Linked DNA regions of Homo sapiens. The protein of the gene in region 2 purifies or fractionates together with the protein of the main gene of each other region. This does not show direct contact. Each region holds a gene or a part of one and is shown on either strand. Other genes may lie near its edges.

What was found.
Region 1: the proteins of ELK4 (region 2) and CLNS1A purify together in Homo sapiens (affinity purification with mass spectrometry; one large-scale study listed by BioGRID and IntAct). This does not show direct contact.
Region 3: the proteins of ELK4 (region 2) and MTMR14 purify together in Homo sapiens (affinity purification with mass spectrometry; one large-scale study listed by BioGRID and IntAct). This does not show direct contact.
Region 4: the proteins of ELK4 (region 2) and MYO1C purify together in Homo sapiens (affinity purification with mass spectrometry; one large-scale study listed by BioGRID and IntAct). This does not show direct contact.
Region 5: the proteins of ELK4 (region 2) and ROCK1 purify together in Homo sapiens (affinity purification with mass spectrometry; one large-scale study listed by BioGRID and IntAct). This does not show direct contact.
Region 6: the proteins of ELK4 (region 2) and IVNS1ABP purify together in Homo sapiens (affinity purification with mass spectrometry; one large-scale study listed by BioGRID and IntAct). This does not show direct contact.
Region 7: the proteins of ELK4 (region 2) and TCF25 purify together in Homo sapiens (affinity purification with mass spectrometry; one large-scale study listed by BioGRID and IntAct). This does not show direct contact.

The regions. Positions count from the first base shown.
Region 1 is NC_000011.10:77,624,003-77,628,245, reverse strand, and holds part of CLNS1A (methylosome subunit pICln), read left to right. Parts: intron 1-2,427; coding exon 2,428-2,529; intron 2,530-3,175; coding exon 3,176-3,283; intron 3,284-4,243. UniProt on the Homo sapiens protein: Involved in both the assembly of spliceosomal snRNPs and the methylation of Sm proteins.
Region 2 is NC_000001.11:205,618,050-205,622,292, reverse strand, and holds part of ELK4 (ETS domain-containing protein Elk-4), read left to right. Parts: intron 1-1,454; coding exon 1,455-2,327; coding exon of another isoform or gene 2,328-2,465; exon of another isoform or gene 2,466-3,025; intron 3,026-3,219; coding exon 3,220-3,336; intron 3,337-4,243. UniProt on the Homo sapiens protein: Involved in both transcriptional activation and repression. Interaction with SIRT7 leads to recruitment and stabilization of SIRT7 at promoters, followed by deacetylation of histone H3 at 'Lys-18' (H3K18Ac) and subsequent transcription repression.
Region 3 is NC_000003.12:9,694,022-9,698,264, forward strand, and holds part of MTMR14 (phosphatidylinositol-3,5-bisphosphate 3-phosphatase MTMR14), read left to right. Parts: exon of another isoform or gene 1-1,504; intron 1,505-3,689; coding exon 3,690-3,845; exon of another isoform or gene 3,846-4,189; intron 4,190-4,243. UniProt on the Homo sapiens protein: Lipid phosphatase that specifically dephosphorylates the D-3 position of phosphatidylinositol 3-phosphate and phosphatidylinositol 3,5-bisphosphate, generating phosphatidylinositol and phosphatidylinositol 5-phosphate.
Region 4 is NC_000017.11:1,482,687-1,486,929, reverse strand, and holds part of MYO1C (unconventional myosin-Ic), read left to right. Parts: intron 1-798; exon of another isoform or gene 799-875; intron 876-1,169; exon of another isoform or gene 1,170-1,218; coding exon of another isoform or gene 1,219-1,236; intron 1,237-1,355; exon of another isoform or gene 1,356-1,805; coding exon of another isoform or gene 1,806-1,808; intron 1,809-2,626; coding exon 2,627-2,782; intron 2,783-3,204; coding exon 3,205-3,320; intron 3,321-3,870; coding exon 3,871-4,069; intron 4,070-4,243.
Region 5 is NC_000018.10:20,951,151-20,955,393, reverse strand, and holds part of ROCK1 (rho-associated protein kinase 1), read left to right. Parts: intron 1-148; coding exon 149-227; intron 228-349; coding exon 350-611; intron 612-1,608; coding exon 1,609-1,816; intron 1,817-4,006; coding exon 4,007-4,010; 3' UTR 4,011-4,243. UniProt on the Homo sapiens protein: Protein kinase which is a key regulator of the actin cytoskeleton and cell polarity.
Region 6 is NC_000001.11:185,298,066-185,300,986, forward strand, and holds part of IVNS1ABP (influenza virus NS1A-binding protein), read right to left. Parts: coding exon 2,907-2,921; intron 2,494-2,906; coding exon 2,372-2,493; intron 2,279-2,371; coding exon 2,152-2,278; intron 2,066-2,151; coding exon 1,934-2,065; intron 1,819-1,933; coding exon 1,645-1,818; intron 224-1,644; coding exon 1-223. UniProt on the Homo sapiens protein: Involved in many cell functions, including pre-mRNA splicing, the aryl hydrocarbon receptor (AHR) pathway, F-actin organization and protein ubiquitination.
Region 7 is NC_000016.10:89,897,061-89,901,303, forward strand, and holds part of TCF25 (ribosome quality control complex subunit TCF25), read left to right. Parts: intron 1-1,496; coding exon 1,497-1,589; intron 1,590-1,706; coding exon 1,707-1,812; intron 1,813-3,574; coding exon 3,575-3,734; intron 3,735-4,243. UniProt on the Homo sapiens protein: Component of the ribosome quality control complex (RQC), a ribosome-associated complex that mediates ubiquitination and extraction of incompletely synthesized nascent chains for proteasomal degradation.

The DNA.
Region 1 (4,243 bases), on a different chromosome or scaffold from region 2:
CCAAATAGTGACGGCCATTGGAGGTGGGAAAGGTACATGCCAAGAGAAAGGCTTAGGAAATAGCATTTAATAAATACTAGCCTAAGGGCAAAAGCACATTGAATAAGAAAACTCTGTCATTAGGCCGGGCACAGTGGCTCAAACCTGTAATCCCAACACTTTGGGAGGCCAAGGGGGGCAGATCACAAGGTCAAGAGATCGAGACCATCCTGGCCAACATGGTGAAACCCTGTCTCTACTAAAAATACAAAAATTAGCTGGGCGTGGTGGCGGGTGCCTGTAATCCCAGCTACTCGGGAGGCTGAGACATGAGAATCACTTGAACCCGGGAGGTGGAGGTTGCAGTGAGCTGAGATCGCGCCACTGCACTCCAGCCTGGGCAACAGAGCAAAACGGTCGAAGAAAAGAAAAAAAAGTAAGAACTCTGTCATTAACTTGCTAGGCAAGTCATTTGCATTTCTCTGAGCCTGAATTTCATCCAAAAAGTTAAGGGAGTATATTAGTCTCTTGTTCCCAAACTCAAGACTAATGGATACACATTAGAAATACATGGGAAGCTTGTTTAAAATGCAAATGCTCTGAGTCCTAAACTAGGAAAAAGCAGTTCAGTAGGTTTTAGGGTGTGTGTTTTAAATATGTGCTCTATAATCATACAGAATCTATATGATTGGTTGTAATTGATGTGATTATGATTAATCCTTTCTTAGTAAGATATGCAGGATTTCCTATCTTACTAGAAATTAGTATCTTTCTGGGTCACATTTATTTCACTAATTCTCCAGTTCCTTTTTTTTTTTTCTTTTTTTTTGAGATGGAGTCTTGCTCTGTCGCCAGGCTGGAGTGCAGTGATGCGATCTTGACTCACTGCAACCTCTGCCTCCTGGGTTCAAGCGATTCTTCTGCCTCAGCCTCCCGAGTAGCTGGGACTACAGGCTCCCGCCACCACGCCCCGCTAATTTTTTTTTTTTTGTATTTTAGTAGAGTTGGGGTTTCACTGTGTTGGCCAGGATGCTCTCCATCTCCTGACCTCATGATCCACCCACCTCAGCCTCCCAAAGGGCTGGGATTACAGGCGTTAGCCACCTCGCTTGGCCCTTTAGTTCTTTTTATCTTAAACTCCTCTCATAAATTACATGTGCTTGAATCATATTTTCCCAGCCTTTGTTCCTTGCATTCTGATTCTCTAAGCTCTAAGTTTTTTTTTTTTCTCTTTGGCATACCTCTGTAAGTCTCTTTAAAAATGACCATCAGGGCTGGGCGCGGTGGCTCACACCTGTAATCCCAGCACTTTGGGAGGCTGAGGCGGGCGGATCACGAGGTCAGGAGATCAAGACCATTCTGGCTAACACGGTGAAACCCCGTCTTTACTAAAAAAAATACAAAAAAATTAGCCAGGTGTGGTGGCGGGCGCCTGTAGTCCCAGCTACTCAGGAGGCTGAGGCAGGAGAATGGGGTGAACCCAAGAGGCAGAGCTTGCAGTGAGCCGAGATGGCACCACTGCAGTCCAGCCTGGGCGACAGAGCAAGACTCCGTCTCAAAAAAAAAAAAATGACCATCAGGACCGGGCATAGTGGCTCACATCTGTAACCCCAGCATTTTTTTTTTTTGTGATGGAGTCTCACCCTGTCACCTAGGCTGGAGTGCGATGCTGTGATCTTGGCTCACTGCAACCTCCACCTCCCAGGTTCAAATGATTCTCCTGCCTCAACCTCCTGAGTAGCTGGGATTATAGGCGCCTGCCACCACGCCTTGCTAATTTTTGTATTTTTAGTAGAGACGGGGTTTCACCATATTGGCCAGGCTGGACTCAAACTCCTGACCTCGTGATCCGCCCACCTCGGCCTCCCAAAGTGCTGGGATTACAGGCGTGAGCCACCGTGCCCAGCCACAATCCCAGCATTTTGAATGGCCAAGACAGGAGGATCACTTGAGCCCAGGAGTTTCAGACCAGCCTGGGCAACATCGTAAGACCCCATCTCAAAAAAACAAAAATTAGCAGGGTGTGGTGGCAAGTGCCTGTAGTCCCAGCTGCTTAGTAGGCTGAGGTGGGAGGATCGCTTGGGCCTGAGAGGGCAAGGGTGTCCAGTCTGGGCAACAAAACAAGTCCCAGTCTCAGAAAAAAAAGTTGACCCTTAGCTCATTGTTGATGAGATTAGATTACCTTAAAAATAACCTTAAAAATTCATTCCCGGTGAGGCGCGGAGGGAGCACTTTGGGAGGCCAAGGTGCGTGGATCTCGAGGTCAGGAGATCGAGGCAAGGCTTTTCTAGGATGCTCACTGTATAATCAGAATTTTTCAACCATAATTGGAAATAAATTTGTCAACCATAATTGGAAATTAAAATTGAATTGCAATATTCAGATTTTCAATATGCTTCATTTTTTTAAAGTCAAATAATGACATTAAAAGGGTATTTTATTTTCTAGAAGAATCAAAAGAACCTGTTGCTGATGAAGAAGAGGAAGACAGTGATGATGATGTTGAACCTATTACTGAATTTAGATTTGTGCCTAGTGATAAATCAGCGTGTGAGTGTTCTACAGTATTGATTCTTCCCCTTTTACATACCAAGCATTCCCAATTGACACACACACACATACACACACACACACACCTCTCACCTTTACCACCATTACCTCCATTCTATTGCTTTTTCTTTATTTTAGCATTGGTAATATCATTAAGGACCAAATACCTATTAATATCAAAGGTTGTGAATGTAGTGAGAATATTGTAGACACTCTGTCATCTGGGTATATTTTGTGAGTGGACTCTGGTTAGTTTTACTGATTGGTGCTGTTGACTTAATCTCACCTGCTGGATGGCAGAGGAGTTATGGCAGTTTTAAAGTGGAAGATCTCAGGATGGCTGGAAAGAGCCCTATCAGCTGAGAGCAGTCTTCACCCTTCACCCTGATGCCAGCAGTCTTACCAGGACTCTGACCCTTTTTTCTTGGAAAATCCCACGAGCCATGAAGAGATTGCAATGATCTCTCATAATGAACTCTTATTATTTTATGACTTGTCTTTTGCTTCAACCGCTTTCAAGATTGATCTTACAATTTGGCAGATTTTGTAAATACTGTGGCGTTTTGTGTACCCATTAAATTTATTTGCACTGATGGTTACTTTTATTACAAAAAAAGATTGGTTACAGTTTAATTTCCTTGTTCAGTGGAGGCAATGTTCACTGCAATGTGCGAATGCCAGGCCTTGCATCCAGATCCTGAGGATGAGGATTCAGATGACTACGATGGAGAAGAATATGATGTGGAAGCACATGGTTAGTGAAATGGATTTTAAAGTGGGTTTTTTGTTTGTTTAGTGTTTCATTTTAAGCATTTATTTGTATTAAGGGTAGAGGATTATAGTTCTTTATATGACTGTAAAGTATGCAGTATGGTAAAATTATTATTATTATTTTTGAGATGGAGTTTTCGCTTTTGTTGCCCAGGCTGGAGTGCAATGGCGTGGTCTCGGCTCACTGCAACCTCTGCCTCCTAGGTTCAAGCGATTCTCCTGCCTCAGCCTTCCAAGTAGCTGGGATTACAGGCATGCGCCACCACGCCAGGCTAATTTTGTATTTTTAGTAGAGATGGGGTTTCTCCATGTTGGTCAGGCTGGTCTTGAACTCCCGACCTCAGGTGATCCGCCTGCCTCGGCCTCCCAAAGTGCTGGGATTACAGGTGTGAGCCACTGTGCCTGGCTGGTAAGATTATTATTAAAATAGAATGACACGGTAGAACACTTTATGCCAAAGCCCTTTGCAACAGACAAATTTTTGAGTGTAAGAAATAGAGATTGTTATGGGGAAGAATGGGTAAGTAGAGCATATGGGAGGAAAGAAAATGGTAGATAGGGAAGTGGATGGTCAGGAAAGTCTTTTAAGCTGAGGCAGCTGCCCCCAGAGAACAAGCTTCTCTCTCTACACCTTGAGAACCTGGATCATTTATATTGTTTTATTATTACTATTATTATTTTGCAACAGGGTCTCACTCTGATGCCCAGGCTGGTGTGCAGTGGTGTGATTTCTGCTCACTGCAACCTCTGCCTGCTGGACTCAAATGATTCTCCCAGCTCAGCCTCTTGAGTACCTGGGACTACAGGCTTGCGCCACCATGCCTGGCTAATTTTTGTGTATTTTTTATAAAGACTGGGCTTTGCCATATTGCCCAAGCTGGTCTCCAACTCCTGGGCCCAAGCAATCCTCTGGCCTTGGCCTCCCAGAATGCTGGGTTACAGG
Region 2 (4,243 bases):
CTGTTTATACACAGAGTTGGTTTTTTAGTTAAAATTGCTGAGATCTTAATTTCTTTCACTTTTTTTTGTTTGTTTGTTTGAGACGGAGTCTTGCTCTGTTGCCCAGGCTGGAACACAGTGGCGTGATCTCAGCTCACTGCAACTTCTGCCTCCCAGGTTCAAGTGATTCACCTGCCTCAGCCTCCCGAGTAGCTGGGACTACAGACATGCACCACCACACCTGGCTAATTTTTGTATTTTTGGTAGAGATGGGGTTTCACCATCTCTACGGGAGGCTGGTCTTGAACTCCTGACCTCAGGCAGTCCACCTGCCTTGGCCTCCCAGAGTGCTGGGATTACAGGCGTGAGCCACTGTGCAGGGCTCTTTCACCATTAAGTGGTTGATCTTACCAGCTTTCCTGTCTGGAGATAAACTGGAATTTCTGAAGGAAGTAAGAACCTTAACAGATACTATGTTCTAAATTCCTTTTTCACAGCCGGGCGCGGTGGCTCACGCCTGTAATCCCAACACTTTGGGAGGCCGGGGTGGGTGGATCAGTTGAGGTCAGGAGTTCAAGACCAGCCTGGCCAACATGGCAAAACCCCATCTCTACTAAAAATACAAAATTAGCTGGGCATGGTGATGTGTGCCTATAATCCCACCTACTTGGGAGGCTGAGGCAGGAGAATTGCTTGAACCCAGGAGGCAGAGGTTGCAGTGAGCTGAGATCACACCACTGCACTCCAGCCTGGGTGACAGAGTGAGACTCCATCTCAAAAAAATAAGTAAATAAATTCCTTTTTGCTTACTCAGGATGTGTATGGCTTATACCTTTGGAATTGTTTGAGACTGCAGTTCAGGGAGTTCTAATCTGCACAGATATTTGGTTGAGAGTGGTAAGCAATTAAAATCCTTCAGTTTTTATGTAACATATTAGTTCAGTTGTTAATAAGACATTTAAATGTTCTTGCCTTAACTTCTCCATAATAGTAGGGACTGTGTTTGGTATGGCTAGATGAATTTAGGTGATTTTGAAAGTTTTAAGTAAGTGATGTCTACTTCTAAAATGGAGAACCTCATTACCAGCTTTTTCTTTTTTTTTTTTTTTTTTTTTTTTTTAAGACAGACTCTTGCTCTGTCACCAGGCTGGAGTGCAGTGGTGTGATCTTGGCTCACTGCAACCTCCGCCTCCCGGGTTCAAGGGATTCACCTGCCTCGGCCTCCTGAGTAGCTGGGACTACAGGCGCACGCCACCATGCCCTGCAAATTTTTTCTGTTTTAGTGGAGACGGGGTTTCACCATGTTGGCCAGGCTGGTCTCAATCTCCTGACCTCGTGATCCGCCCTCCTCGGCCTTCCAAAGTGCTGGGATTACAGGCATGAGCCACTGTGCCTGGCCGATGCCAGCTTTTTCATGAACTATGGGATATAAGTTTATAAGAAAGGATAAAAATGCTTTTTTTTTTAACCTACAGAATATCATCAAAAAAGTGAATGGTCAGAAGTTTGTGTACAAGTTTGTCTCTTATCCAGAGATTTTGAACATGGATCCAATGACAGTGGGCAGGATTGAGGGTGACTGTGAAAGTTTAAACTTCAGTGAAGTCAGCAGCAGTTCCAAAGATGTGGAGAATGGAGGGAAAGATAAACCACCTCAGCCTGGTGCCAAGACCTCTAGCCGCAATGACTACATACACTCTGGCTTATATTCTTCATTTACTCTCAACTCTTTGAACTCCTCCAATGTAAAGCTTTTCAAATTGATAAAGACTGAGAATCCAGCCGAGAAACTGGCAGAGAAAAAATCTCCTCAGGAGCCCACACCATCTGTCATCAAATTTGTCACGACACCTTCCAAAAAGCCACCGGTTGAACCTGTTGCTGCCACCATTTCAATTGGCCCAAGTATTTCTCCATCTTCAGAAGAAACTATCCAAGCTTTGGAGACATTGGTTTCCCCAAAACTGCCTTCCCTGGAAGCCCCAACCTCTGCCTCTAACGTAATGACTGCTTTTGCCACCACACCACCCATTTCGTCCATACCCCCTTTGCAGGAACCTCCCAGAACACCTTCACCACCACTGAGTTCTCACCCAGACATCGACACAGACATTGATTCAGTGGCTTCTCAGCCAATGGAACTTCCAGAGAATTTGTCACTGGAGCCTAAAGACCAGGATTCAGTCTTGCTAGAAAAGGACAAAGTAAATAATTCATCAAGATCCAAGAAACCCAAAGGGTTAGAACTGGCACCCACCCTTGTGATCACGAGCAGTGATCCAAGCCCACTGGGAATACTGAGCCCATCTCTCCCTACAGCTTCTCTTACACCAGCATTTTTTTCACAGGTAGCTTGCTCGCTCTTTATGGTGTCACCATTGCTTTCATTTATTTGCCCTTTTAAGCAAATCCAGAATTTATACACTCAAGTTTGCTTTCTGTTACTTAGGTTTGTCTTAGAAAGGTTATGTGTGACTGTCATGTGAAAGTTACCCCATTTCTCATCTTAATTAGGATTGCTAAAATAGAAAGTTTGGAGTATTTTCTTAAAAAATTCATTGTTCTACAAGTAAATAAATATTTTGATTTTTCTATTTCCTCCTAAAGAAAGTACACACACTCTCTCGCTCTCTCTCGGTCTTATAAAACTCGTTGGTGTCTTATAAAACAAACAGTGATAATCTCAAGTTAGAAAACAGTAGGTCCTGAGAACCATAAGAAAAATGACTGGTGTGATGTTGAGTAACAAGTTGGTACAGTTACTTTAGCTATTTATTAACTTGCTCATCTCATAGAACATTTTAGTAGATTTTTCACACACCTCATTATTAAAAAAAAACAAACATGCTGGTGTCTTGGTTACCCATTATTCCTCTGTACCTGAATTCAGGTTGGTTTTTCTATTTGGAAAAGACTTTATAAATGTTGGCTTAAAAAGAGGTTGAGCACCAGAATCTCAGAATTTACCACCAAAGAACTCATCCATGTAACCAAAAACCACTTGTACCCCCAAAAACTATTGAAATAAAAATTTAAAAAATTTTAAGTAGTTATTATCACCTTTATCCCTCTTAGTTTGTAAAAATAATTTTTGAGTTTTGTCATGATAATATTTCAGACTTGGAGATATTTGGAGTGGAGGATAGGGCAATATTTAGGTTTGGGTTATTTGTGTGCTGTTTCAAGGATAAAACATCCTGGTAAGTCAGTCAGTGAATATTTTTGCTTTGTGTATTGCAGACACCCATCATACTGACTCCAAGCCCCTTGCTCTCCAGTATCCACTTCTGGAGTACTCTCAGTCCTGTTGCTCCCCTAAGTCCAGCCAGACTGCAAGGTGCTAACACACTTTTCCAGGTAATTTTATAAATATCTGTCTTCTGTAGTTGGAGCATGTTAAATGAAGAAAGAGGCAAAAAGGCAGGGTCCCACTATTCAGTTTAATCATTATAAAACTTCTATTTAATGAATATTCTTTTTTTATTTTTTTGAGATGGAGTCCTCACCATGTCACCCAGGCTGGAGTGCAGTGGCATAATCTCAGCTCACTGCAACCTGCACCTTCCAGGTTCAAGCGATTCTCCTGCCTCAGCCTCCGGAGTAGCTAAGATTACAGGTGTGCAACACCACGTCTGGTTGATTTTTGTGTTTTTAGTGAGACAGGGTTTGACCATGTTGTCCAGACTGGTCTCCAACTCCTGACCTCAGGTGATCCGCCCACCTTGGCCTCCCAAAGTGTTGGGATTACAGGCATGAGCCATTGTGCCCTGCCCAATGAATATTCTTTAGATTTATTTTTGAATTTCCAAATATTAATTTTCTAGCTGGCAAACAGCTTGAATAAATATAGCAAAGTTTCATTTTCATTATTTACTATTACATACATTTGAGTTAGACCAAGAATTGTTCAATACTGTAGGAGATTTAGAGCCTACCCCAAGTTTTTGTCACTAGAAATTCTCTATTTAAAAAAAAAAAATGGGCCAGGCAGTGTGTGTGTCATGCCTGTAATCCCAGCGCTTTGGTAGGCCGAGGCAGGAAGATTGCTTGAGCTCAGGAGTTTGAGACCAGCCTGGACAACCTAAGGAGACCTTGTCTGTACTAGAAATAAAAAAAATTAAGTTAGGCATGGTAGCACGTGCCTGTGGCCCCTAGAGCTACTTGGGAGGCTGAGGTGGGAGGACCGCTTGAGCCCAGTAGATCAAGGCTGCAGTGAGCTATAATGGCACCGCTGCACTCCGGCCTGGGTGACACAGTGAGACCT
Region 3 (4,243 bases), on a different chromosome or scaffold from region 2:
TCCCAGGATGACACGCTGCTTCCTTTCTCACATCCAGGGTCAGATGAGAGCCTCTTTTTTCAGTTATAGGTAGAAGCTGTGTGCTTTACTCCCGTTGGAGGTTACGTGGTGGTCCATGAACCAATTTCTGAGTCACCCACCCCTTATCAGGAAGAAAGATGAGTATATTATCAGCAAGGGCTTTGGTCAGACCTGGGTTTCCGTCGTAGCTTTGCAGTCCTAGCTGTCTGACTTGGAAAAATCACTTCCTTTCTGAGCTCAGTTATTTTATCCTGTTTTTAAAGGGGGAAAAATGATTCAGGCCCCCCTCCCGTAAGTTTGGGTTAAAATGAAATAATGGGTTGGGCATGGTGGCTCATGTCTGTAATCCAGCACTTTGGGAGGCCAAGGTCAGAGAATCGTTTGAACCCAGGAATTCAAGACTAGGCTGAGCACCATAGTGAGACCTTGCCAATACAAAAGATAGATTAGATAGATAGATTGGATGGATGGATGGATGGATGGATGGATTGGGATGGACTGGGATGGACTGGGATGGATGGAGTAAATACTCATAGTAGATACCTTTTCACGAATGCTCAGTAAACTGTAGCTGTGGTTAAGGACTTGGCCTTAGTCATTTGTCCGAGAGCCTGTAGGCTCTGTCATGGCACTAGGCAGCTGCGTAAAAGGCCAGGCCTCCATCCCGACCTGTGTATTCTTGCCTGGGTTGAGCCAGCTCGGTTTGTGTGAGTATTCTTGTACCCCCTTCCAGAAAGGACTAGCTAAAAGACACCTGCTCTGAGTTGGCCATCAGCAGGGCATCGGGGGAGTTGGGAGCCGGTAGGAACTGCAGCTCTGGGTGCTGTGAAGAGGGCCCTGAGCCGCATCCAACTAAGGAAGTGAAATGTTGCTGAGCTCCCACCCTCCTAGGCAGAGGTCTGAGCCGCTGGGATGTGGACAGGTGACCTCTGAAGCGTTGTTCAGCTCCGCCACCATCCAGTTTGAGGGTTGCTTGGTCCCATGTTCTCTCCAGTCCTGTAGTGGGAGAGCAGAGGGGGTGGAGCTTGGATCCCTCTGTTTGCTGCTCAGGGCAAAAGACTTTGGGCTCTTGTTGAAGCTGGTTAAGTTACCTGTGTTCTTAGACTGACTGGAAGGCTTTTCCTCCCTTCTCAGTATGTGGGCACAGGTCCTTACTCCCGGTGACATGATGCACTGTAGGTGTCCCCTGCAGCCAGCTAATCCATGGTGGTATTTGTGAACACCTTCCTGCTTAGCATGGCCCTTTGCTCTCAACCCCAGGAGCTGAATGGTCACTTTGTAGCCCTTCCTTTGACAAAGGCCTCACGTAGGAAGACTCCTTTGTAGCCAGTGTGCTCACTCTTGAAAAATCCCAGAGTCTGCAGAAGATGGCTGCTTGCTGAGAGATGCTTCTGTCCCCTGGGATCACACACCCTGCTGCTGTCTGTGCTGCCTAATCCATCCGACAGCTGCTGCAAGTGCGGTTCTTGGCCGGTGTTACCTACTGAGACATGGGGGAAGTAAAGGGAAGTGACAAGCCCAGGGGACCTGGAATCCTTGAGGGGAGCCAGTCAGTAACTCCATCCCATTGGTCATGTTTCCCTTGCCAGTGTTACTCTTTGGCTCTTGGGGAGTGGTTTTGGGGCCTGAGAAACTTCCCCATGCTCCCAGCCCCAGCTGTGCCTCAACCTAGTCAGCATCCCTTCCATTCCCTCAACATTCTGGTTTTTAGCTGTTGTTTTCCCACAAGCTGCTAGAACTGGAAAAGATTCTACCCTGCAGCTTGAACAATAGACGAGATTTGTGGAGCTAGGATGCATCTCAGGGTTGTGCCGGCTGAAGGCCTGGTGTGACCTGGAGGGGGCACAGGGCAGGCTGCTCCTGGGGAGCTGTCTCTTTGATTTACAGACTGCCTGAGCCCAAGTTTCTCCATCTAGAAACAAGGAAGCCCTGCTCTGTCGGGCCCTAGGGGCTTCCGTCAGGTGACAGACCATATCCCGTTCTCATCCCTAATGCTGCCATCACGCACCTTCTAGAGTTTAGCAGGAATGATGAATGTGACAAGTCTGTATGTTGTAGGGGGTTCCGATTTATGGCAGCCTTAACATAGAAAACCATCTGTTTTCCCTGGTCCCAAGGTGGTTCTGTTTCAGGACAAATGTGTAATCATTCTTGGTTTTAAAAATCTCTTCTCAGCCGGGCGCACTGGCTCACGCCTGTAATCCCAGCACTTTGGGAGGCTGAGGCAGGCGGATCACCAGAGATCAGGAGTTCAAGACCAGCCTGGCCAACATGGTGAAACCCTATCTCTACTAAAAATAGACACAAAAAAATTAGCCGGGCATGGTGGCGGGCGTCTGTAATCCCAGCTACTTGGGATTACAGTTGGGAGGCTGAGGAGAATTGCTTGAACCCAGGAGGCAGAGGTTGCAGTGAGCTGAGATCACGCCACTGCACTCCAGCCTGGGCGACAAGAGCAGGGAAAAACAAAAACAGAAACCTCTTCTCACACTGTCTAGCTGTGATACCTCAAGCAGGTGTCTTCACCTGTCTTACAGATGGGGATGGTTAAGGATTGCCAGAGTTGCAGTGCCTGGCTGGCTGCACTCCAGTGGCAGCTGCTTGGGGATAAGACTAGCACGGTGACCAGTCGGGCTGTCACCTCAGACTAGGAGCCCTTGACATCAGCCAGCTGGGGGAGCCAAGGGCAGTGAACATTTTTCTCCACCCCCAATCCCTGCTCTTCATTCCTGTTTCTGGATCCCTACTGGAGTACCTCCTGCTGTTTTTGGATGAAAGAATAAAGGGTCAAGCATCAAAGATGATGTCCTGGGGACTGGGACCTGGGGTAGCAGGTGGAAGGGCCTTGTTTGATGTCTCCCTATTGCCTCCCCGACCCACACTGGCTGGACTACTGCCCAGGACAGAAGAGGGGGGTTGGCTGTGAGTGGGGAGGAGGTGGAAGCGGTAGATTCCCAGCACAACCTTCTTCCTCCCACCCCCAAAACCTCCATCTGAAGAAGGCCTGAGGAAGCTGTCAGGCTGCCTGCCTGATTCATCCCTTCCCTCTGGGCATAGCCACTGAGTCTGCTGGGCTGATGCTTCTGAATACAAACTATGGCACCTGGAAGGCACTGCAGAGAAAGGGGGGACCTCAGGGCTCCCATTCCATCACTCTTGAGTCTAGGTCATACCCTCCACAATCCCCAAGAGGCCCGTACTGTCTCTTCTGATGGGACTCCTGGGTTCTGTGTTGCCCACCCTGCAAATCTGCATGCCAGCAAGTATGGGTGACCCGGCTGGCTGCTGGGTCACCTTCATTTGGGTGCTAGCCTTGCTGCCTTCCTTTGGTGCTGTTGAGATTGTCCTTGCCGTGTTCACTCCCAGCGCAGGCATGCCCTGGCCCCAGGCTGTGGCTCCGATTCACTCTTACTGCCATGCTTTGTTCTCATTTTTTGCTTCCACAGTAAGTCTGCACAAAATACTGTCCTCACAGCTGAGCTTACCTGGTGATCTATTCTTTTTTCTCGGTCACTACTTGTCCAGCTTTTTTTTTTAGACTTTTGGAGACAGTGATTGACAACAGAACCTAGCAGCCAGGGCTGCGCTAGTCCCCTAGCCCCCTCCAGAGCCTGTGTCAGGCATATGACTGACTGCATCCTCTCCCCTCTCTCTCCTCTCTGCCCCAGATCAGTGGACCATCCCCTGCCCGGATCCTCTCTCTCCACAGACTATGGCAGCTGGCAGATGGTAACGGGCTGTGGCAGTATTCAGGAGCGGGCTGTCCTGCACACAGACTCCTCTCTCCCTTTCAGCTTCCCGGATGAGCTCCCTAACAGTTGTCTGTAAGTGTCTTGCTTGAGAAGGCAGGATGCTCCCCTGCCCATGGGAAAAGCTGGTGAGCAGTCAGGAGTGCTGGGTAGGAATGAGGCTGGCGCTCAGGAGCTGGCCTGGCCTCCTGCCCTCCCCTCTCTCAGCTGCTGGACCCGAGGTATGAAGGAGGCCTGTGGCTGGTCAGGAAGTGCACTGGTTTGTGTGTTCACTCTGCAGCCTCTAAAACCCATCCACTGGTGTCTCAGGTGCACCCAAAGGGAAAGCTGCTGGACTGTAACTATAGAAGATTCTATTTCTGTATAAGCCTTTGCCTGACATGAGAATCGTTTGAAGGCAGAACAGTGGGATAGTGAAGGTAGGTGTATGGTGGAGGCCAGAGCCAGAGTGGTGCTGGGTTAGCCCGAAGCTT
Region 4 (4,243 bases), on a different chromosome or scaffold from region 2:
TGGTGCCCGCAGAGCCAAGCGAGGGAGGTTCTGCCGAGGCCGCTTCGGAGGTGGGGGGCGTCCCGGAGATCCGGAGGGACTAGGGAGGCCCCCTTCAAAGCAGGGAGGGAGATGGGCCGGGCGCGATGGCTCACGCCTGGAATCCCAGCACTTTGGGAGGCCGAGGCGGGTGGATCACCTGAGGTCAGGAGTTCCAGACCAGCTTGGCCAACATGGTAAAACCCCGTCTCTACTAAAAATACAAAAATTAGCCGAGTGTGGTGGCGCACGCCTGTAATCCCAGCTACTCGGGAGGCTGAGACAGGAAAATCGCTAGAACCCGGGAGGCAGAGGTTGCAGTGAGCCGAGATCGCGCCACTGAACTCCAACCTGGGAGCCAGCGCAAGACCCCGTCTCAAAAAAAAAACAGAAAAAAAAAGGAGGGAGGGAGGAGGTCCGGGCCCAGAGGCGAGTGGGGTGTCCCGGGTGGGGAGAGGCTGTGGGCCCCAAATGCCGTGGGCGGGGGGGACGCGAATTTCCCAGAGGGGGAACTGAGCCCTCCAGAGGGGCCGGGTACTCCGCGCGCTCGGCCAGGGCACCCGTTGGCCGTCCCTGTCCCTGGGGCGCGAGCTCCGTGCTGACGAGGAAAACCAAGATCTTCCTGGGTTCGAGGCTCGGACCAGGCCCCGGCGCGTGTGGGTGGACGGCGTCCCGCACGGAGAACGCTCCGCCCGCCGGGCGCGCCGGCCGTATTTGGACATTGGTTCTATTTTTAACTTTCCCGGGACTCGAGTTCGGGGGTTGGGGGAGGAAAATCCCGCTTCCTCTGGGACCCGCAGGCCTCGGTGCCCGCCCAGCGCCCAGGCCCGCCGCGGAGTGTAGTCCCAGGCCCGGAAGTGAGTTCCGGGTCGGTGTAGACGCGGCGGCCGCGCGGGTTCCGGGCTCCACCCTGGTGCCAACGGCGTCCCTCCTGGAAAACCTGACTCAGGCGGAGCCCGCCCCCGCCCCCGGCCCGCGGACCCCCCGCCCCGACACCCCCACCTCCACCAACCCCACCTGGAGGGGACCCCAGCCCGGCCGCGCGGGAGGCGGGGGAGGCCGGGGAAGCCCCGCGCTTCAGGGGCCCGGGTGGGGGCGGTGCGGGGGGCGGGCCCTCCCTCGCTGACGCCGCCGCCACCGCCGCCGAGCCCGGGACCCGGAGCGCGGGCAGCGGAGCGGGCGCCAGGCCGGCCGGGCAGGATGCGCTACCGGGCGTCGGTGAGCCTGGGGGCGGCGGGGCAGGGCGGGGGGTCCCGGGCGTCCCTCCCCACCTCGCGGCGTCGCCTCGGCCTCGCCAGGAAGCGGGCGCGGCCCAGGAATTCCGGGTGGAAAAACGTCCCGGGAAGTTGCAGGGGGAGGAGGCCGAGGCGGGGAGGGCGGCGCGGGACGCTCGGACCCGGGGCCGGATGAGGAGCCGCCGGGGACGCCTGAGAACGCGGAGACCCCTGACCCGAGGGCGAGGGGGCGGGGACCGCGGCCGGATTTGGCAGCCGCTTCGGCGCGGGATTGGAGCGGGGCGGTGAGGACAAGCCTGGGAGGGGCAGGCCCCCGGCCAGAAATCTGGGCCTTTCGTGGTCAGAGGACACCGGCGGCCCCTTTGGGATCCACCCCCAATCACCACCACCTTGTTCTTCTCTGACCCTGGATACTCTGGGTGTCCATTTTTTGGAGCCCTGAGACCCTGTTTGAAGAGGGATCCATCTCAGCCCTGGTTGTGGGGCGAGGGTCTTGCTCAGCCTGCACCACCCTCCACCCTCCAGTAGGACCCAGAGGCAGCTGGGCTTTCCATGGTAAAGCCCCCATCCCCTGAGGCTTCTCAGGACTCTCAGTGGAGGAGGTGCCTGGGGAGCCCAGCAGCTGGAGGAAAGGGAGTGGCCCCAGCCATGCGAGGGAGGGCCTCCCCCGCGTTCTGGAGTGGGTGGCTGAGCCCAGCTGGGGTGGGAGGCCCTCTGGGGGAACCCCTCTGGTGTAGTCTGGGAGTAACCTCTTGCTTGGTGCTCGACGCTCTACCGGTGGAGGTGGGGGTGGGTCTGGGTGGGAGAGACGGCCCCACCCTGCCTGCAGAATTGACCCTGAGCCATTTGTCCTCCAAAGCACCTGTCACACGTGGCTCAGAGCTGAGGGACCTGAGGTCACCTGGTCTAACTCAACTCCTCCTCCTTTAGGAGGAAGGAACCAGAGAGAGGAGGGGATTGGTCCAAGCTCAACAGAGCAGTCTTTCTGCTATTTCAAGGAGTTCCTTCTTGTGACCCCCCCTTTCTCCACCCAAAACCAGCACCTCCCGGGTTCTGCCCTCTGGTCCTGCCTGCGTCCATGCCCTGTGTCCGAGTCCCAAGTGGTTCATGTTGTCTCTGTTCTGTGCCCGCAGCCTCGGTGATCCCTCTGCTGCCACACTGGGACCCGGGCCCTCCACACCCGGCTTTCCGCACCCGGCCCACCACACCCAGGCCCTCAGCACCCAGGCCCCCCGCACCCGTCATGCTCATGTCCCGTGTCTAGCCCGGAGTCCACAAGCCCCTACGTTCCCTCTCAGTCCCACAGGCGCAGGGAAGTGGCCTTGCCCCGCCCCCGATGACTCTGACCCTCTTCTGTGGCCCATTCTCTGCAGGCCCTGGGCAGTGACGGGGTTCGGGTGACCATGGAGAGTGCGCTCACCGCCCGTGACCGGGTGGGGGTGCAGGATTTCGTGCTGCTGGAGAACTTCACCAGCGAGGCCGCCTTCATCGAGAACCTGCGGCGGCGATTTCGGGAGAATCTCATCTACGTGAGGCCCTTGTGGGGAGATGGCAGGGGTGCTGGGGTCACAGACACAGGCAAGCGGAGGGGAAAGAGACACCAAGGGTCACCGGGATAAACTTTTTTTTTTTTTTTGAGACAGTTTCACTCTTGTTGCCCAGGCTGGAGTGCAGTGGCGCGATCTCAGCTCACTGTAACCTCCTCCCCCCGGGTTCAAGCGATTCTCCTGCCTCAGCCTCCCGAGTAGCTGGGATTACAGGCACCCGCCACCACGCCCGGCTAATTTTGTATTTTTAGTAGAGACGGATTTCTCCATGTTGGTCAGGTTGGTCTTGAACTCCCGACCTCAGGTGATCCGCCCACCTTGGCCTCCCAAAGTGCTGGGATTACAGGCATGAGCCATCGCACCTGGCCCGGGATAAACTTTGGACCCTCTTCCCCCGATCCCAGACCTACATTGGCCCCGTCCTGGTCTCTGTCAATCCCTACCGGGACCTGCAGATCTACAGCCGGCAGCATATGGAGCGTTACCGTGGCGTCAGCTTCTATGAAGTGCCCCCTCACCTGTGAGTGACCCCAGCCCCTCCGGGAGCGACCCCTCTGTCTCCATCTGAGGTGACCCCGCCCAACCCTTACCTTACTCTGAAATGATCCTGGCGTCCCGCGCCACATCTGTGAGGAATCCCACAGTCTCTTGCCCCCCAGTGACCAGAGATGAATGTCGCAACTCAGCTCCATGTGGGTGGGACTCAGTCCCTACCCCGACTCACACCCATGACTTATTCCCCAACTGGGAGTGGCCCCCCAATCTTAGTGACCTCTGAACCCCACCTGCAAAGACCCCCCCCAGCCCTACCCGTGAGTGACTCCAGCCTCCACCTAAGTGACCTCCAGCCTCCCACCTGTGAGAGCCTCTCAGTCCTCCCGCTGGCGGTGACGCCCATTCTCAGCTATGACGGATCTCCCATGGCCCACACCTGTGAGGGACCCCCAGTCCCCATCCTCAAGGGTGTATTCGACTCCCACAAGAGGACTCCACCCAGATGTGGGAGCGGGACTCTCGTGGGGCTCTGCTTGGCCCCCCTCCCCAAACTCCCTGACGAGCCTCCGCCCCAGGTTTGCCGTGGCGGACACTGTGTACCGAGCACTGCGCACGGAGCGTCGGGACCAGGCTGTGATGATCTCTGGGGAGAGCGGGGCAGGCAAGACCGAGGCCACCAAGAGGCTGCTGCAGTTCTATGCAGAGACCTGCCCAGCCCCCGAGCGCGGAGGTGCCGTGCGGGACCGGCTGCTACAGAGCAACCCGGTGCTGGAGGTGAGGGGCAGGGAGAGAAGCCCAGTGCCAGTGCGGGAGGGGAGGGGCAGGGAGAGAAGCCCAGTGTGGGAGGGGAGGGCAGGGAGAGAAGGCTAGTGTGGGAGGGGAGGGGAGGGGCAGGGAGAGAAGCCCAGTGCAGGAGGGGAGGGGAGGGCAGGGAGAGAAGCCCAGTGC
Region 5 (4,243 bases), on a different chromosome or scaffold from region 2:
ATTGTGGTTTTAATTTGCATTTCTCTAATGACTGATGATGTTGAATATCTTTTTGTGTGCTTATTTATCACCCATATGTCCTCTTTAGTGAAATGTCTTTTACAATAAATGAGTTTTTGTAAATGGCCTGTATTTATTTTCATTTTAGTAAACTGTTTCACGTTAGACCTGTAACCCAAGGAGATGTGTATAGAGCTGAAACTGAAGAAATTCCTAAAATATTCCAGGTAAAAATCTGAAGTTATAATTTTAAAGAATCTAAGTCCTAAGCGTTTTTGTGAAGTAAATGTAAAATATACCAATGCTTAAGATTTTTAAAATCTTTTCCTTTCACCATTCCTGAATGTAGATACTATATGCAAATGAAGGTGAATGTAGAAAAGATGTAGAGATGGAACCAGTACAACAAGCTGAAAAAACTAATTTCCAAAATCACAAAGGCCATGAGTTTATTCCTACACTCTACCACTTTCCTGCCAATTGTGATGCCTGTGCCAAACCTCTCTGGCATGTTTTTAAGCCACCCCCTGCCCTAGAGTGTCGAAGATGCCATGTTAAGTGCCACAGAGATCACTTAGATAAGAAAGAGGACTTAATTTGTCCATGTAAAGGTAAGGCATGGTAATTATTGTTACAACTTATAACAAATTTAATTTTAAGTCTCAATGAACTAACTTATGTGTAGTGATTTCTATACCAAGTTGAAAAGAGATTATAGAAAGTATTATTTTGACACTGGTGGGGCAATATGCAGCTATTTACAGATTTAGCTTTTAAAAATGTTTTTATTTATTTTTATTGATTGACTGATTGATTGAGATGGATTCTCACTCTGTCTCGCCCAGGCTGGAGTGCAGTGGCGTGATCTCAGCTCACTGCAGCCTCTGCCTCCCAGGTTCAAGTGATTCTCCTATCTCAGCCTCCTGAGTAGCTGGGACTATAGGCGTGTGCCACCACACCCGGCTAATTTTGTATTTTTAGTAGAGATGGAGTTTCACCATGTTGTCCAGGCTGGTTTCGAACTCCTGACATCAGGTGATCCACCCACCTCGGCCTCCCAAAGTGCTGGGATTACAGGTGTGAGCCATTGCACGCCCGGCCAACAGTGTTTTTAAAGAGAATCACCCCCTTGTAAACAAACAAAAACAAACAAACATGCTGCTAAGAAATTATTCCAAGTTGGAGAGAAGAGCAACAGGTGAGTTCCACTCTATTCCTCCCTTGAGTTTTTCCTCTTCTTTTTGTCTGGCATTCACTGCCTGGATCAGCATGCATGCTGTATCACAGAATATCTTCTAGTTTTACAGAGGTAGCTTGAGGGAAAGAATACAGACCATAGCTATTTTCAGATAAGAAGCTTATGTTCTTTAAATACATTTATTTGTTTTACATTTTGTTATATTTCTGATTTTACTTTATTAGTTTGACTAATTTTTTTTTTTAATTTCAGCCTTATTTAACTTAAGGAGAATGAGATATTGTTCATGCTTAATTAAGCATATTAAAACTTTTAAAACCTTAAGAACTTGAAAAACTATGCATTTGATAGGTTGGATTTTAAAAAACTATATGGCTTTAATTATGCTTTTTTTTTCCTCCTTAACATAGTAAGTTATGATGTAACATCAGCAAGAGATATGCTGCTGTTAGCATGTTCTCAGGATGAACAAAAAAAATGGGTAACTCATTTAGTAAAGAAAATCCCTAAGAATCCACCATCTGGTTTTGTTCGTGCTTCCCCTCGAACGCTTTCTACAAGATCCACTGCAAATCAGTCTTTCCGGAAAGTGGTCAAAAATACATCTGGAAAAACTAGGTAAGGATTTGAAATGCTAACGTTTTTAACAATGTGAAAATGATTGGATAACAGCTATTAAAATCAGAAATCTAATTGTGCTTTTCACCACAGAGGGCATCATTTTTAGGTATTTGTATGTGAATTGCAGTGACTTTATAAATTAGTTTAACTTATTCTTGTTAGAGTTTAATAATAATAATACATGCAATATTATATTTATTTAGTTCTGTGTCTAATTTTATTGTCATAAGTTGCTGTACATGGCATAGTTTTAGCCCTTAATGCTTTAACCAACTTAATTTTTTTAATGCAGAAATTCATATAAAACTTTTCATCATCTTTTCTGTTTTTTAACTGTGTTGGCATAGTTTTTCTACAAAAACCAAAATTGTTTTTCCCTTTTTTGTTAACTTCCCATACTATCCCAACATACAAAATTATTTGGTATTATCAGTGACTATGTTTTTTTAATTATTATACTTTAAGTTCTGGGATATATGTGCAGAACATGCAGGTTTGTTACATGGGTATACACGTGCCATGGTGGTTTGCTGCACCCATCAACCCATCATCTACATTAGGTATTTCTCCTAATGCTATCCCTGCCCTAGCCCCCCATCCCTCGACAGGCCCTGGTGCGTGACGTTCCCCTCCCTGTGTCCATGTTTTCTCATTGTTCAACTCCCACTTACGAGTGAGAACCTGTGGTGTTTGGTTTTCTATTCCTGTGTTAGTTTGCTGAGAATGATGGTTTCCAGCTTCATCCATGTCCCTTCAAAGGATGTGAACTCATGACCCCCTTTTTTTTTTTGTTTTTTGAGACAGAGTCTCACTCTGTCACCCAGGCTGGAGTGCAGTGGTGGCGCTATCTCAGCTCACTGCAACCTCCACCTCCCAAGTTCAAGCAATTCTCCAGCCTCAGCCTCCCAAGTAGCGGGGATTACAGACGCATGCCACGCCTGGCTAATTTTTGTATTTTTAGTAGAGAGAGGGTTTCATCATGTTGGCCAGGCTGATCTCAAACTCCTGACCTCAAATGATCTGCATGCCCCAGCCTCCCAAAGTGCTGGGATTACAGGCGTGAGCCACCATGCCTGGCTGTTTAACTATTTTTGATGGACTTTTTTCCAAAAATATGTTTTATGCCATGATAAACAATTATAAGGCATAACCATTCATTCATTCATTCATTCATTCATTCATTCATTCATTTTGAGACAGAGTCTCGCTCTGTCACCCAGGCCAGAGTGCAGTGGCGCAATCTCAGCTCACTGCAACCTCTGCCTCCCAGGTTCAAGCTATTCTCCCACCTCAGCCTCCTGAGTAGCTGGAATTACAGGCACATGCCACCACGGCCTGCTAATTTTTGTATTTTTAGTAGAGATGGAGTTTAACATGTTGGCCAGGCTGGTCTTGAACTCCTGACCTCAGGTGATGCACCTTCCTGGGCCTCCCAAAGTGCTGCGATTACAGGCATGAGCCACCGCACCAGGCAGTTAACTCTTTCTTGGAGAGAAATAATGAAATCTCATCTCATTAAGTTCTCATTTTACACATTAGTAAATAAGGCTCAGAGAAATTAAGCAGTTTGCTCAATCACACAGCCAATGGATTGGAAACCATTTCTGTCCAATTCTAAAGCCTATGTTGTCCAATTCCAAAGCCTCTATTCTACCACATACCACCTTCCCTAGAGTGTACTCCCTAGATTAATAGGGCCACTCGAATTAGAAGCTGAGACCTAACACTGATTTGCCTCGCTGCCAATGTCACCTACATCTTCCAAGCAGGCTTAAAGCCATCTTGAATTCATCCCTTTTGTTCATGCCCTATTGTCAGTAACCAGGCCTAATTCTTTGAAATGACTTATATCCTTTCCTTTCTCAGCCACCATACTATGCCAGGTATTATCACCTTACTGCTAACTTAATTCTGTAGAATGCTATGTCAGCCTTCTCCTGAGCATAGGTTGTAAACTGGATCTAAAATGATTTGAAATGAGATTATAGCTGAGTAAGAAAATGTGTAGAAACAAAGAGGAGAGAATACTAAGTATATTTTTCCTATTCCTTGTTTTCCAAATTTTGTGTAATTGTTAATTATTTTATGTAAAGATAATGTATATTTACCTTTCCTCCTAATGTTTGTTTCTTGTATTTTTAAACTGAGTGCATTTCTTAAATTAGTTTTTTCCCCCTCCCTCAACAGTTAACCATGTGACTGAGTGCCCTGTGGAATCGTGTGGGATGCTACCTGATAAACCAGGCTTCTTTAACCATGCAGAGCAGACAGGCTGTTTCTTTGACACAAATATCACAGGCTTCAGGGTTAAGATTGCTGTTTTTCTGTCCTTGCTTTGGCACAACACACTGAGGGTTTTTTTTATTGCGGGTTTGCCTACAGGTAGATTAGATTAATTATTACTATGTAATGCAAGTACAGTTG
Region 6 (2,921 bases), about 20 Mb from region 2:
CATTCATTTGACTCAAGGTTATAGACTTCCACCGTATTCAGAAATTCATTGCCATCGAATCCTCCCACTGCATAAATGGTGTTCCCTACAGTTGCAATCCCAGCATTGCTCCTTGGTGAAGTCATATTTCCCATCATCTTCCATTCATTTCTAGTTGGATCATACATTTCCACACAACTGATGGCATGAGAACCATCAAAGCCACCACATACAAACAGTTTTCCTAAAAGAGAAATGAGATGGGGTAAATCCAGAGATTAAAGTGTAATAAGGTAAAACTCCCCTAAATCTGTCTTTTGCTTAAAAATCAGTGGTTTTAAAAATAGAAATGCCTGTTCATTTTGTCAAAAAGAATTTATTAAATGCCTAATATGACAAATACTCTCTAAGAGCTGGGAATCAAATCAATAAAAAAACCATTCCCACGTGGAACTTAGGCAACTTAAAAGGGGGAGGGAGAGGAAGCAGTAGCAGCATCTAAATAAGTACAATTTTCACCAACTCTGTGGTAGTTACTATTATTATTTCAGAGAAGAAGAAAAGCAGGAAGAAGCTGGACAATTATCCTACAGATGCAGCTACTAAGTAGCAAACCAGAATAGTTCTGTGCACTGGACTTTATATCAGCCCAATGTACAGAATTAAGACTCAGAAGAGATTATAGGAAAGCAGAAAAATATCTTAGGGCTTTCCAACTGTATAAAATGATTTTGGGGCCAGATGCGGTGGCTCATGCCTATAATCCCAATACTATGGGAGCCTGAGGTGGGAGGACTGCATGAGCCCAGGGGTTCGAGACCAGCCTGGGCAACACAGTGAGACCATGTCTCAATTAAAAAAATAAAATGATTGTGGTACAGAAATTTCTTCTGGAAACAGAGTTATGATTATTTTCAAATAGATAAAATGTTAGCAATAAATACTCCGTAGCTTAGAAAAAATTTTATTACTGATTCTCAAATTCATTATTTTTTCATTTGACCATCACTTAACCAGCTTGCATTCTATGTATCTGTAAAGCACGCTGACAATGCTCTAGGCCAACAGGCTGTGTCTACACTTAAGCCTTCACCAGTTGAGCCATAAGCCTGCTAAGGTTCAGCCTGGTACCAAAAACAATGCTAACTTTTAAATTATGATTATATAATTAGACATTAAAAGTCAATAAAATGGAGGTGGAAAGAAAGCTATGTCTACATTTAAAAAGTTTAATACTTTGGAAACTTGTTAAAATAGTCTAAAGGTTGTATTTCCAATTAGGTATGGAGTAGACAGTTGGAAAAGACTAGGGATTTGCCTTTGTTTTGCAGATCAGATTCTTTAAATTCTGGCTGTAAAGAAGGGGAAACTCAAAATTCAAGATGATGCATTAAGGATATGTTTTATAGAAGAAAATGACTTGGAAATTCACTCAGTGCACCCATCAAAAGACTGGTGAATTAAGTTATATATCAAGTATTATAAGTCTTTGATTAGAAAATATATTTCTAAAGGACAAATCACCCTAATCTCCATTGCATCAAAAGAGATGACTGCTTCTGAATTCTTAACTGTACAACTATAGTCATTGGCCTTTTCTCTCAGAGTTTTAGAACAAAGTCTTGCCACTATCTACTCTTCACCTCTCCAAATCCCAACACTCACCATTAAGAACAGCCACTCCAGCTCCTCGCCTAGCCACATTCATGGGTGCAATTAAAGTCCAGGTATTATTTTCAGGATTGTATCGTTCTACTGTGTTCAGACAATTCCAAGATTCTGCACCTCCGATTATGTACAAATAACCACCAAGCTCACAGACTGCAGACTGGTGTCTCCCTACAAGAAAAGTCAAGTCAAGATTATTGCTACATCTCCCAGACTCTAAGTGTATACTACACATACTGTTGATTTGAAGGTCTTTAAAAAAAAAAAGGAAAAAAAATCAACTTACGAATGTTAAGAGGGGCACAGCTTGTCCACAACTTTGTTACAGGATCAAATACATCACAATTTTTCAGTCCTTTTTGACCATATGGATCAGAGCCACCAACGATGTATAACTTTCCATTCAGAGCACACACTCCTATGTAAGTATAAAATAAAGTTACATATTGATAATTTAATTATCATATTTAAATACTGGATATCTCAGGAGAAAACTATTATTACCTGCATTACAACGGTTAGTTCTCAATTCTGGAACAGGAATCCAGTCATCTATGTTTGAATCATACATCTCTCCACAACTCAGGTCATCTGAGTGGCCATTTGATCCACCTACCACATAGAGCTGGCCCTATGCCAAAAGTGAGAGATGAGAATTTCTAACATCCTGAAGTTACGAGGAAAAAGCTAAATAGGGGTTGCTCCTGCAACATAATGCGCTTACCATGAGTACAGCCATTTGAAATCGGGCTCTTGGTGTTCTCATGGGAGCAAGAAAGGACCAGTGATCTGTATGTGGATTATAGCATTCGACTGTTCGAAGACATTCCTCTCTGTTATAGCCACCTGGTAAAAAATAAAACCATAAAGATTTATGTTTAAAATATTAAACTGGACCACGGTTTCCAGTCCTGTAAGTTTAAGAAATCTGCACAATGAGAAAAAGTATTAAAACTTTTTAAGGATGCCTTAGTTGATCTTTTAACTAAGTGCTTGTAATAGCTGAAAAATCGCATTATCAGTACAAATAAACTGCTTAGTCTTGGCTTGAATATTAGAAAAATTTAGCCATGACATAATTTTTTTAAAAATTAGATACAGACATTGAACTGAAGGTTAGCCATATTCAATAGTATTGTTATTTCCCTATCTTATTGGATTGCCGTGAAAGATGGCATATTAAACCCTCTCTTTGAAAGTTTGCATGTCACAAAAATGCCCATCTACATGCTTAGCCAGTTGAATGCTTCTGTTCTTACCTGCAGCTATGAGTT
Region 7 (4,243 bases), on a different chromosome or scaffold from region 2:
GCCTGAGAAACCAGATCTCCACAGTGGGCTCTGCAATTGCATTTCCTTCTATGTTTGGCTGAGAAAACCCATCCCTGGCAAGTTTAGAAGCTTTGGAAGGCTTTGCAGGTTTGACCTTAAATCAGTGAGGAGCTCAGAGTCAGCCTGACCCTCGCTCCCCTGTGCTGAGCGACCGCATGTGGAGGTCTCTCTTCTTTCAGATACTTCTGCCCCTAAAGCCATCCCTCTGGCATCAGGCCTCGCTGGTCAGACCTAGACTGGCTTCCGCCAGGCCTTCCCGCAGCCTGTCCTGTGGGCCCTTTGTGGAGCAGACCAGCTTCTGTCCGCTGTCCTGCCTCTCCTGTGTGCAGTGCCCTGTTTCTCTGGCCGCCCTGGGTTGTCTGCAGTGTGGGATCCGCTCCTACCCTCTCAGCCCTCCTGGCAAGCCAAGGTCCGCTGACCCGTTCTGCACAGATTGTCTGCACTGTGTGCTGGGTCTGAATTTCCTCCACTGGTTTTCTTTATGTTAGTTTTGTCTCTTCCAATGAAATTCTTAGTTCTTTGAAGTAGATTATAAAATATTAATATTTCCCGACGCGAAAGAGACAGTGGGCTGTTGATGGAAGTAGCAGCCCACCAGCATCCGAAAGTCACAGGGCTCCATGTATCCAGCCTGAGTGCTGTTAGCCACTGTTGAGATTGGAGGATAAATTAAGATCGTAATTGTAACAAGAGATTTTAACTCTCTTCCTGTAAATGATAAATAATAAACAAAAAAACAAGATAAAGATTTCAGCGGGGCGTGGTGGCTCACGCTTGTAATCTCAGCACTTTGGGAGACCGAGGCAGGTGGATCACAAGATCAGGAGATCGAGACCACGGTGAAACCCCGTCTCTACTAAAAATACAAAAAATCAGCTGGGTGTGGTGGCGGGTGCCTGTAGTCTCAGCTACTTGGAGAGGCTGAGGCAGGAGAATGGCATGAACCCAGGAGGCGGAGCTTGCAATGAGCCGAGCCGAGATAGCGCCACTGCACTCCAGCCTGGGTGACAGAGCGAGACTCCGTCTCAAAAAAAAAAAAAAGATTTCAAAGAAGTTTGATTTTCAGTATGCAAATTCGTGTATAACTCTGTAAAGGACAAGGAGAGCGCACACCTCCTCTCCAGACATGGATCTCTGTGTGCTGGGCACGTAGAAAATGCCAGCAGAACCCAGAGAGCAGAATGGGGGTGGAGCGGGTGCTGACCGGGGCGCTAAGCAGTGTGTGGGGTGGAGCGGGTGCTGACTGGGGCGCTGAGCAGTGTGTGGGGTGGAGCGGGTGTTGACTGGGGCGCTGAGCAGTGTGTGGGGTGGAGCGGGTGTTGACTGGGGCGCTGAGCAGTGTGTGGGGTGGAATGGGTGGTACTGGCCAGGACGCTGAGCAGAGGGCGGGGTGGAGTGGGTGCTGGCCGGGGCGCTGAGCAGAGAGCATTCTCCTTTGTGTCGTTGTAATTCATGTGGAACTATTTTGGATCTAGGAGCTTCTACCTGGCCCTCTACAAGCAGATGAGCTTCCTGGAGAAGCGAGGCTGCCCGCGCACGGCGCTGGAGTACTGCAAGCTCATCCTGAGGTGAGTGTCTGCTCAGGGCCAAGCCCGTCCACGCTCCCTGTCCTGGCTGCAGGCCCACTCTCAGCCTGACGATGCCCCTGTTCCCCTTTGCTCTGCTCTCTGTGCTGCCTCCGGAAGTCTCGAGCCGGATGAGGACCCCCTCTGCATGCTGCTGCTCATCGACCACCTGGCCTTGCGGGCCCGGAACTACGAGTACCTGATCCGCCTCTTCCAGGAGTGGGAGGTGGGTGCGAGCCTGGTGAGGCCCCGTGGAGGGACGGACACCTGCTTCTCCTTCTGTTTTCTTGGTTCAGTATCTGTGCGCTCAGGGGACGTTTGGGGATGAAACGATAATCGTCTGAGGGCAGAACCACGTCCTCCTGCCTTGTTTGTCTCCCTTGCCGCCTCTACGGAGTGGAATGTGGTTTTCCTAGGGACAGTACAGCAGCCTTATGTCAGAATCCTCATACGTGTGTACACATGCTCAAACGTGTGTACACATGCACACGTGTGCCTGCAAGGACTGTGATGCTGGTAATGATGAAAAACCGACAACTCCCGAGCTCCTCATGGGCAGTTCAGGAAGATGCAGCCGGGAGGTAGAAGGAGGGTTGGTTGCGTGGGGCTGACACAGGGACCCCCAGCACGTCTGTCCTGTTCCATGGGAAGAGTGTGAGTACAGCAGGAGAGACTTGAGCTCTGTCCCCAGTAACTCTAACACAGACACGTGTTGGAATGATAATTTCGGTGTATTGGGTTAGATATAACGTATTAATCTCACCTGTTTTGTCTTTAATGCAGCTCCCAGAAAATTTAAATTGGGCCGGGCATGGTGGCTCACGCCTGTAATCCCAGCACTTTGGGAGGCCGAGGCGGGCGGATCACCTGAGGTCAGGAGTTTGATACCAGCCTCAACATGGAGAAACCCTGTCTCTACTAAAAATACAAAATTAGCTGGGCGTGGTGGTGCATGCCTGTAATCCCAGCTACTCGGGAGGCTGAGGCAGGAGAATCGCTTGAACCTGGGAGGTGGAGGTTGCGGTGAGCCGAGATCGCGCCATTGCACTCCAGTCTGGGCAACCAGAGTGAAACTCCGTCTCAAAAAAAAAAAAAGAAAATTTAAATTGACACCTGGGCTCCCATTATGTTCCTATGGGGCAGCACTTATCTGGAAGGACACGGGCTTTGTAACGCTAACCTCCAGCAGGGCCTGGGGCTGGGGAGAAGGCGACAGCTCTTGACTTTCTCTGCTTCTGTGTTGAATTTTTTTCATAGCACATGTTCATGGATAATGAAAGTGGGTAAATTATTTTGAATTTTTAAGCATTTGGCATAGTTGGCCAGGAAGTCTCACCCCCAGGAATGTGGTTTATAGAAATTCCTGGAGCTCACAAAAATGTAGGTGCAGGGAAACCTCAGGGAGTCCCCCAAAATGGGGCTGCAGAAGAATGTTGATGATGGTGTTTAAGGTCACAAAACTGTGAGTCTGTGATCCCATTTTGATAGAAAAAAATGCAGTGAGTCACATGTCTACAATATGTGACATAGGCTGAGAAAGGCAAGAGAAACTGGCACGGTGGTAGACTGCTCGGAAACTCGCGTGGCGGGCTGCTCTCGGAAACTCGCGCGGCAGTGGGCTGCTCTCACAGACTCGCGCGGGGGTGGGCTGCTCTCGTCTGTAAATTTTCCACATTGAGAGCACCAACTGCTCAGCTTCAGAGAGGAGCCTGGGCGGCAGGTGGGACCCTCACTCCCCACGGTGTCCTCGCTCCGGCTCAGTCTACTTCTCAGGCCCTCCCACGTCCTCTGTATCTTCTGCATGCGGAAAGCCCCCCAGGTGGACGTTTTAAGTTATCTTTATGCTGAGTTAGGAAGAGGCCCTTGCGTTGCCTGCAGAATATACCTGCTCGGGGTAGGGCTCACTGGTGATGTCAGAGCGTCTGCAAACTCACATATTTTGTCTTTATGACTTAAGGCTCCACGCTCTGTTTCTTCGTCCCTCGTAGGCTCATCGGAACCTGTCCCAGCTCCCTAATTTTGCCTTCTCTGTTCCACTGGCGTATTTCCTGCTGAGCCAGCAGACAGACCTCCCTGAGTGTGAGCAGAGCTCTGCCAGGCAGAAGGCCTCTCTCCTGATACAGCAGGCGCTCACCATGTTCCCTGGAGGTGAGTGAGCGCTGTGTCTCGCCTGGGGTAGGGGTGTGTCCTGTCAGCCGTGGGGGCTGCTCTTCCTGGTGGTGGAGGCCAGGTCCCAGTCCTTCCCCACACTTGTAGAAACATGCATTCTCTGGTAGGGCCTGCAAACCTGCCCTACCAAACCTGAAAGAGGGTCGGCTCATCTCGGAACCCGCTGCGTGCCAAGCCAGGCACGAGGAGGTGGCAGGCATCCCGACCCCCGTGGGGCCTGTGTTCTAGAGTGCAGAGACAGAACTGGCTGGGAGGTGCGGGGCATTGGATTGTACCAGTGCTGGGGAGGAGAGCAAAGCAGGGGAAGGTCTCGGCAGCGCCGAGGTGTGGCCGAGAGGGTTGTGCTCTGCACCATGCTGGGATGCAGAATGGAGGCCTGTGCCGCCCAGATGGACTCAGCCTGCACAGCCGTGACCCCTGACTGCATCTGGGTAGCTTCGATCCACGCACATGTGGCGGGCACAGTGAGGCTGCCACCTGGTCAGACC